Regions from separate parts of the Homo sapiens genome. Here region 2 is linked to region 1. A link means that fine-mapping ties the variant in region 1 to the expression of a gene that starts in the linked region. Tissue or cell type: cerebellar hemisphere. Region 1 holds a variant in brackets; the other region holds the start of a gene. All regions are shown on one strand. Distances are between the middles of the regions.

What was found. PIP is the estimated chance that this variant, and not a neighbour inherited with it, causes the effect.
Region 2: it holds the start of SLCO1C1, and the variant in region 1 is fine-mapped to the expression of SLCO1C1 in cerebellar hemisphere (GTEx, PIP 0.97).

Annotation. Positions count from the first base shown.
Region 1 is chr12:20,077,853-20,083,071 of GRCh38, forward strand. All of the region lies in intron 2 of LINC02398 (long intergenic non-protein coding RNA 2398), which reads left to right. Among named protein-coding and RNA genes, the nearest start is that of LINC02468, 47 kb to the right of the region's middle. The variant GCAA/G (reference allele first, on the strand shown) is at 2,757.
Region 2 is chr12:20,692,791-20,697,924 of GRCh38, forward strand. SLCO1C1 (solute carrier organic anion transporter family member 1C1) reads left to right here and starts at 2,542. Exons shown (of 15, transcript NM_017435.5): 1 at 2,542-3,017.

The DNA of each region.
Region 1 (5,219 bases):
GAATCAGAGACATGACTGTGGCCAGATATTGGGGTAGCACAAGAGATAACAATAGGAATGCCAAAGTCCATGGCTCCGTCTGGGTTTGCAAGCTGACAGGAGAAAATCAGAAGACAAAGCCCAGGGCCTCAGGAAAGACAGGCTTGCCTGGGAGCACTTCTTGTAGCCACTAGTTTGTGCTAATCCTCCTTTTGGAGCCTGGAATTTTCCCACAGCAACTATACTTTTATATTTTTTGTAAGCGCAATTCTCCAAAACTAGCATCTCTTACTTAGAAAATAAATTGTTGAGATCTGAAGTTAAGGTTCGTAGATACTGAGTGAAGGCATAGGGAGCCTTTCCTTTAGCAATGACCATGAATTTTAATGTGTACATTTTGTTTGACTGCCTTAGGTATCTTAGTTTTTATCAATACATTCTTAGCTAAATGATAAATAAATGAATTTTCTTGACCACATTTATGTGTAAATAAGGTTGCCAGATAAAAGGCAGGATCTTTACTTAAATTTGAATTTCAGATAAACAATAATTCAATTTTTAGAATAAGTATGTTTCAAATATTGCGTGAGACATACTTATTCTAAAAATGTATTCATTGTTTACCTGAGATTCAAATTTAACTGGGAATTCTATTTTTTTTCTAAATCTGGAAACTCTACATATGAATGACTACAATAATGTGAACACTAGTAATTACTGAGCACTTTCAGGAACAGTGATACTATTTTAACACACATTATCTTAATTTTTACAACAATGGATCAACACAATTATTATTCTCATTTTCCAGTTATAAAACTGGGACTAGAAAGATTAATTTCTAACAGTTTGCAAATGGTAAAGCTAAAATTCAAACTCAGATCTGTCTGACTCCCTAAATAACACACACGCATACTCTGTGTATGTGGATGAGAAAAATGCACCTGTCCGGGCATTCTGTCATTTTTGGATATTTGGATTCCAGATGCAATTGTCATTTATTATTCCTTATGGTAAATTCATAAAATGCAACCATTTTATCTCTCTGTATGTTTTCTTTGATCAAAAGGAGAAAACCATTTTCTATTACTTGAGTTCAGACAGGCATGTGGCTGAGCTTTCTCAGCAGGTGCCGGTTTTCCTGTGCAGTTTGAAGCTGTGTTTAGGTAACTCAGAGAAAGCCTTCTGGCCACCCTGCTTCTGATGGTGTCCAGCGAATACCTCATAGCAACAATGTCAGTTTCTTACTCATTTTTGTTACTTACCTAGCATTAGGAAGTTTGCTGAGGTGAACATTATTTTAATGTTGTCAATTGGCCACTCTCCAGGAGCTAATTGTTGACAATTCTCCCTTGCCATTAAATAGTAAATATTACAAATCGTTGAGGCTAATAAACCACTTAAGAAAATGAATGTCATGTTATTGTGACATCTAATGATGAACGTCTGAAGCCATGAAGGTTCCTAGACTTCTTTGCGTTTTGGGATTTGGGAAGTTTTGCTTTTTTGCCTCAACTAACCTCTTCTAAATGGTTATTTAATCACTAGAAACTAAACTACTACCATCTAAATTAGAAAACTGTATTGACTTTTAGAGAATATATTATCAAGGACCAGAATCGAAAAACTATAATTTACATTCCCTGTCGCCTCTTCTGTGGTTATTGAATTCTATTGGCAAAGCACTCTGGAAGCATTTGCTATTAACATGACTAAAGCAATTATATGAGGCTTTTAAATAATGTCCAGCAACGGTATTCTTTATTGCATTTAACATTAAGAATCTTTGGCAACTCAGGAGCTTATTATCATTAAATAAGAGATCCTCATCCTCACATATTATACAGAAATATTAGTTTTAAAATATTTTTCAAAAGAAGTAGTTTTTAGCTAATTCTTTTAAAAATAAAAGCAGTAGAAAAATGTAATCTGTTAAAAATGATCTGTGGTTTTTGTCTGCACGATATTCATAACCATTTAAATCCTTTCGTATAAAAGTTGGTCAGTATTCCAGTTATTTTATTGCTATTGTCTGTCTTCACATAGATCACAACAAAAATATCAGAATTTTATTTATTGAGTTCAGATTTCATATTTGAAAATATATGTAATTGAACTGTATTATTTTCAACTACCTGAGTCCTGTATAGAAATATTCAAATGATTCATTGAATTTTTCACTTTTCATCTGGATGTTTGTGTTTTATGTCAATACAGTCACAGATTGAATTTACTGTGATAAACCGTGGCAAGAATCAACTATCTCTCATATGACATCAAAGTGTTTGAAGGGAAATGAGTGTACCAGTTTCTTTGCAAAATCTGCAAAAAAAAATTTGCAAAATTTACAAATTTCAGATGCAAAAATCTGACTGGATCTGAGATAGCAATTGTGATCCCATGGTAAAAGAAAAATAATTTCTCAAATTCTTGAGGTACAAAGTAAGCAATAGTCTTAAAAGTCTTAAAAGTTTCAAGTGTCTAGAAACTTGTCGGCATGATTATCAGGAGATTGGGAACACATGTATTCCTGTTATGATTACCTCAAACATCACAGAACAGCTAACAAGCTTCTCAGAGGTCATCCCTTGCATTCTTCTTAAGGTACATTTTTATACTCTAAGGATATTGATGTTTACACACTAAAGCACATGACATTTAGTTTCATTAGTTTAACTTGACACAATCCAGTGGAAAGCAATACTTTTTAATAAGCAGTGTATAAGACTTTAAAGAAAAAATTACCAACTGGTGCCGATATGAGAAAATGGAGAATA[GCAA/G]CAACAACAGCCAACACCACTGTGGTTACAAGTCAGTAATAGAATAATATTAATACTTTCTGAGAGTTTACTATTTTTTTCTTTCTTCTCTGCCTTTTATTTTAAACAATATCTTTATGAAATTGCAAATTGCAGGACCATAGATATTATTACAGTTTTTGGAGAAACCAGAAAGATAGAGAAAGGATATATAATAAATTCCTGCCATGATCTTAATTTTTTCAATGTAACCTTTTGAGATAAAGAAGTCTTAACCTATAGATCATGTTTTATTTCACATAGAATGAATTAAATACTCAAGAGCTCTCTATGAAGGAGGCAAATATTCCCACATACTTAACCTCATATATCTTTATTCTCTCTTTGTTTTCTTGAAATAAGAGTGCGTTTTTAATAACAATTGTGTTATGAAGAATCTCAAACATACACAAAAGGAGAGAATTGTATAGTGAACTACTACGCACTAATTGTGAACTTCCCTGTTGTCAATAGGACATGACTGATTATTTTGTTTTTATTGTCAATTACTTACCTCCTTCTTGCTCCCATTAGGTTGAGTTCCTGATATCATACTGGCTTTTTTTGGGTAAGTATTTCTTTATGAATTTGTAAAAAATAAAGAAACCCATTATTCTATTATCACACCTTAAAAATAACATTAATTTGCCGGTATTGTCAAGTGTCCAGTTAGTACTCACATTTTTCATTTTTCTCCAGTTTGTTTATTTGAAAAAGGGCCACATAAAGCCTATACATTGTGGTTGGTTAATTTGTCTTTTTAATTTTCTTTAGTGTAATTTCTGGAATAAAGATGATCATTGATATATACTCTTCTATAGTGACCATTGCCTTACTGCGAGGGTAGTTAAGGTAAAACACAATGTTTTAAGATTGATGCTATCAATCTATGTAATGCCAAGTAAAACTATAAGTAAAATGGTCAATTTTATGAGGTCTGGGTCTAAATATTGTTTACTTTAAAAATCTGGTGATTTATTTCTTTCCATTTTTATTTCACATATTTTCTTATTTTGTACATGTAGCAATGTTCTAAATATAAATTTAAATGTTGACATTTTAAAAGTTTGCCATTGATAGTGATCTTTAAAAAAACAACTTTCAGATTGAAATATTCAATTAAAGCAATAATCGGTTGCTGTTGGTTCTTTGTATGTCACGCTAATTACAGATTTTCTCCTACTTATATCAAGATGTTTAATTCAGTACCTAGTTTATCTTGATTATAAATTTAGATTCTTTTCCTGAACCATGGAAGTTGAATATAAAACTGTCAGAAGATATTTATGTACTTTATTTAGACATAATTTATATAATTAATTCTAATTGGTACTATAGTTGTTAGAGAGAAACTAGTTAAAAGCAAAATAATCCACCAGTCTCTTAATTTACTTTTTATAAAATAATCACATTATACTTGAATTTGTTCTAAATATGCATTTGATTTAAAAATGTCTTTTGATTGCACAGTTTCTACTCACAAGAAGTGACTTGAGATAATTTTCCCCTTGAATTATTTAATCTACTTGTCCAGGGCATTAATTATGAAAATGACATTTAAGACTATCCTGTCTTATTAATGATGCTTACTTTTTTGCTCATAAGTATGAAGAGTGAGAATTGGAAGTAGATACTATTACTGTTGTTATCACTTAACAGGTACCTAATTTACTTAGAACAATGGAAAAAAGTTAGAGTTTTCTTGTTTGCTTGCTTGTTACAGAATGTGCTAAACAATGCAAACTACTTTTTTTGGCTCTTCTGAATAAACAGGTGCTCTTAATAACCCTGATTCTCCAATAAATATACATTTTTTTGCCTTTGTAAAGGAAGTAGAATTGCAACTCATACCTTCAGTTGAATATTATAATATGCTTAGCAATTGAAGTTGCTTTCATAAATAAATTTTCTGTTAAAATTCTGTACAGGGAAAATAATGAACCATGCTATCATTATTGCCTCCTTCATCTAACAATAGGTCTCTAAGCAAAGTTCGTGTGGGCAATGGACGTCTTTACCCTAGGAACACAGCTAAAGCCTATATGTCACTTAGTATGTGCTAGGCACAGTTATAAGCACCTACGTACATTAACTTATTTAATCCTCCTAACAACCTTAAAGGAAGTTACTATTATTATGATATCCATTTTACAGAAAAGGAAATTGAGACATAGAAAGGTTAAATGACGTCTTGGCTGGCATACAGCTAGCTGTGGTGGGACTAGGGTTTGAATTGAGGCAGTCTGACTCTATAGATTTATTTTTATCCACTATGCTATACTGCCTAATAAGCATAGAGCATGTCAGTGGTTGCCTGGGAGTTAGTTGTTTGATGTAAATAATGGAAATTTTCTAAATCTTGATTGTGGTGGTGGCAACATGAGTGTATTCATTTGTCAGAACTCATCAAACTGTGCATGTGAAATGGATGCATTTTATTAG
Region 2 (5,134 bases), 610 kb after region 1:
AAAATGTATCAAAGAGAAGGGCACATTAATGACATACAATTCTGCTAATACATCAATTAAAATGAGGTCTGGATATTGATCACTGGATTTATTAGTGTGAATGCCTTTAATGTTCTTGATGAAAATATTTGCATTGGAGTGGTAAAGGCAAAACCTGATTAGAGTTGGTGAAAAATGAACTGGAGGAGAGGAAATATATACAAGGAATGTGACTAAAGTTTGGGCTTAGAAACATGGACTGTAGGAGCAAGAAGGAAGACAGCTAATAGCAATGTACATTTGGGTAGAGAGTAGATGTCATGAGGACAGAGTATAATATTTCTCCTGATATTTCTGTTTAGTTAGTGAATTTCCTAGACAAGATCATCAGCTAATAATCAGGGTGCAGCCAGAAATGAAGATTTGAGAGAGGTAAAGTGATTGGGTCATTAAAAAGTATTACGTCTAGCAATGCCTCTATGACTCAGTGAGTTTAGTGGTTATAAATATAAAATAAGCCCTAAGGGCATGTTACTGAGTTGTTCTTCAATCACTTAAAACAGTGCGGATGCAAATACTAAGAAGAAAGAAAGTGGATTTATCTGAGGTGAGCTTTGCCTGGGAAGATCAATAAATTGAAAGAGAAACAGGAGAATTGAGGGTATACAGAAGGAAGTGATTAAAATAATTGCATGAAAAAATTCAAGTAAGGAGGAAAATGAAAATATGAGTGTACTGGCTTGAATTGTGTCTCCCAAAAAGATATGAGGAAGTCCTAACCCCCGGTACCTGTGAATGTCACCTTTCCTGAAAAGAGAGTCTTAGCAGACCTTATCAAGTTAAGATGAGGTCATGAGGGTGGTCCCCAGCCAAAGATGACTAGCGTTTTTTTAAGTACAGAGGACAGAGACATAAAGGGAGAAGATGGCCATGTGGTAACAGAAGCAGCTGTTGGAGTGATACACCTATAAAACAAGGAGTTCAGGCTGTCAGCAAACACCAGGAGGTGGAAGAGGTAAGGAGGATTCTTCCCTACAGGTCTCAGAGGGAGCATGGCTCTGCTGACACCTTGATTTTTGACTTCTGGCCTCCAAAAGTGTGAGACAATAAAGTTCTGTTTTAGGTCACTCAGCTTGTAGTACTTTGTTAGTGCAGTCTTAGGAAATGCATTCATTTATATGTTGTCTGTGGTTAATTTACCACCAGAATGGCAGAGGTGAGTGGTTGTGATAGAGATTGCATGGTCCTACAAAACCTAAAATATTTCTTATTTGTCCCTTTATAGAAGTTTGTTAACTCCCTCATCTAGAGTTTGGAAATGGGAATGAAAGGCTGAAGTAGGCTACAATCCAATGCAAGGTTGCACATAAGAAGCTCTGAATAAGTGTAAACATTATGTGCATTCAAAACAGTAACATTAACTGTGGACTCTGGAAATAAGAAAAGGAATCGTGTTGGAGAGTGAGACTGAGCCAGTTGGGAATAGACAAAATTACATTCTCAAGGGAGAATTTCATTTCTTGGTGAGGAAAATTATGCCCTTTGGGCTGGTAAATACTGTCTCCTCTTGAATAAAACAGTGGTCTGGCCACCTGTTAGACACTGAGAAGTCTAGACTAACACTCAATGTATTCGGATGTTTGCTCACTATTTCCGATGGAAAAGTCTGGTTTGATTGTTAAAGTAAAATATTTGGCCTTTCAGAGTGTGAAAACACCATTGCTTCATTGCAAGGTTTAATATAAACCCATTTTTCTTGCATTTTCTTTTCTTTCTTTTGTAGTAAAATGTGCTTGAATAATATTAACTATTCTGACCATTATGTGAACTAAATATATATATATATAAAATGATGATACCTTCCGCTCATTTGCAATGTGCTTTTGAATACATTATATAATTTAATCCTTAAAACAGCCCTATAAATCTGTTTTTTTTTTTTTTAAACAAAAAAATTCTGCTTTACAAAGGAAGAAGTTGAGACTCAGTAAAATTAAGTGACCATCCCAGAGTCTCAGCCACTTAAGAGTAGGGTGAATCTTGGATAATTCTGGTAGCAAATTTATTTATTGGTAGAAAATAAATGCAAACTACTACTGCTTAAGATCCTCTAAAGTTTTTCTCTTGGAAAAAGAATGTATTAGAATTGTGGACTTTCTCAGTGCAAGGATTTATTTATCCTTGGAATTAGGCAGAATAAACAATTGAATGCCAAAAATTCAACGTGTTTCTTTTCTGTTTTCAAAACTCATAGAAATTGTAAATATGAGCAACTGATCATGTCTCTGAGAATTAACTCTTTTTGTACAGAGCGCTGCAGAGCTTTGATTGTGACCTGATACTTGGTCCTTAAAGATTCTAGAACACCAATGGAAAAGAAAACCATGTAGCAAATTAGCCCAAGAACCGTTAAAGACAAAACAAAACAAACCAAAACCAAAACACACAAACAAAGAAAACACAAGGATCCCAGTGATGTCCCTAAGGAATAGTTGGCTTAAAAACTTTCTGGAAGGAGGAGGGGTCTCTGTTATAAACTTCCGCCCTCCTCTGGCTTCTGTTCCTTACCCTCTGCCCCCTGCGGAGTTGTGTTTTCTGGGAATCAGCAAGTAAGATCACAAGTGGTCTTTTCTTTTATTCACTCTCTCCCATAAAGAAAGCTTTATCACGTGTGGCCTTAAACTTGCAGCAAATTGCAAAGAAATGGCTCAAAAGCTTCAGCTCTTTCTGTGCCCTGGGAGCTGAGATGCACGTCAGTGGCCTTGCCAGCGTGGCCAATTCTCTGCTGACTGCCAGAAAAAAGAGGCCAGGAAGAAAGAGGAAAGAGAAGAGATCGCTCAGGGGTGAGACCATGCCCTTCATCTTTTCTTTTCCCTAATCTCCTCTGCTTGTGTCCACCCACACTCTCCCCACCTGGCAAAATTGTTCAAAATTGCTGTGGAGTTTACCTCAGTTTCCTCTTTCAGTCTGTGGTGTGTGGTCCATCCTCTTGCTGAGCACATTGAAAGGAACTGGCTATCTTTGATCTCTTCCTCCAGGTAAGACTTGGTTCTCTCATTTTATATTTTGTGACTAATACATCAGATTCTTATGGGAGATTAACCCTTAATTTCTGTGCGATTTATGTTTTATCCATAAAAATATCAGTGAAAGGTGATGATCCCCTCATTAGTTTGATGGAAATAAGAGAGAAGATTGGTTAAAGAAATCAGATAAACTCAAATTTGAGTTCAAATTTTGAGTCTCATGCTTATAAATTGTTTAGCTTTTGACAAGTCACTTAATTGCTTTGGGCCATCTAATTTAAAAAATGGAATTCTAATATTACGTTTGTTGGGTTGTTTTAAGGATTAGAAAAAGTACGTACATTACTCAACACAAAAATAGTACTTATTAAATCTGAATCTGACACAGATAATTTGTATTAGGTGAGAAATTAGTTTCTAAACAACACACACTCCTCTGCAGCAAGTGCCGTGAGGCTATTTTTTAGTTTGTCTGAAGGGAGGCATCCTGGTGTCCAGAAGTCAAGCCAGGACAGAGGTTTTCCTCACAGGAGATGGCCAAGAGAAGAGAGGGAGGAGCGTGGTTGCCTTTAGGACTTTCTCTGTGGCAGTCCTTGGGGACTGATTGCTGGACAGAGTCCGAGTCAGTTGCAGAGCAGAGGGGTTGAGTACATCTGCGGGATCTAACTACAACCTTCCTAAGCCACTTGCTCTCTCCATTTAAAATCTGGAGGGCTGATTTTGAAACTAATGAGGACTGATTATTCAATGTTTTTGAACCAAAGGAAGAGAAACTGCTTGGCTTGTTTTTCTTTGGCCTCCAGAATAAGTTATGCTCCAAACCCAGGGTATTGGATGAAAACTGTCGTATGTCTTTTCCTGGAAGAATCTATTCAAGTGGCCAGAGATCAATTAAGGATTTGCCAAATGCAAATAATTCTGAATAACTGTGTACTCTTGCTCTACTTCTGCAGTTGCAAATGAAGAGAGAGAGCCTGCAGGCCCCAAGGATCTTTCCGTTCATGTCATTGAGCTTCCTTCCCTCTCTTTTTACAGGGGATGAACTGTAGCCTCCTTGGAACATACTACACTTGCAATAATTTGCGCATTAACCATCAAGACACTTCAGTAAAGCTATGCAGTGCCAATAGTTTAAGCTGGATCCTATTTTGCCCTAACACAAAGTGAACTGAGATGACTATATTTATATTTCATTATACTTTTGAATTTTAGTTACAGTGATTTTTGTGTCAACACCTCCATATATTAGATAACTTAAAATGTGCTATAGTATCTCAAGTTTTTCAGTAGTGTTTTTAACATAATTATTTTTTCTCTTTGACATTAGCATTCTAGATGTAACACTTTGGATCTTTTAAAGATAAATTTAGGATAAATGATAGCAGATTTTATTATTAAACAATTTATTTGTATTTTCTGGTCACTGACTTTAATATTATGACTGATGAGAAATAATATGATATCTGAATCCCCAAAAACAGAAGGCCAATTTGAATTATATAATTTAATCCTTTGAAGAATATTGCAATTTAAGCCAGAAATTTAATAATTATCCGTTTCTTATTTTAAAACCTTTCTGGTTTGTATATCTCTTGCTTGGCAATATTTTTACTCATAGTTTTGTAGTAAAGATACCTATTTAACATTGTATAACTCTGCATTTCCCAAACCCTGTTTTCCTTGTCCTGGCAAAATACTGTTCTAGAAAAGTAGTCCTAGTGACTCAGTAGATATAGGAAGTTGGCTGTTGGTATCAGATACTGTTAAGGAAGAATCTCTATATTCTTCATTTCTTAAACTTTGTTTTTTAAATCAGTAATAGATGTCGAATTTTATCAACTGATGTTTTTCATGTAATGAAATTCTATTTTTTATTTTGAATTATTCATGTGGTAATTTAGGTGAATAAATTTCCTGTAATTAACCAATTGTTGCATCTTTTAGAATAATTCTAATCATAGAGCAAGAGTTAATTTGGATTTGCTAGCATTTACTTAGAATTTTTATAATCTATGGGCTTGATCTGAAGTTTTCCTTTCTGTGCTATCTTTGTGCTGTTTTGTTACCAAGATAATGTTATTTTTGTCAAACTAATGGAGACAATGATTATCTGTTTCCATTATCGGCTA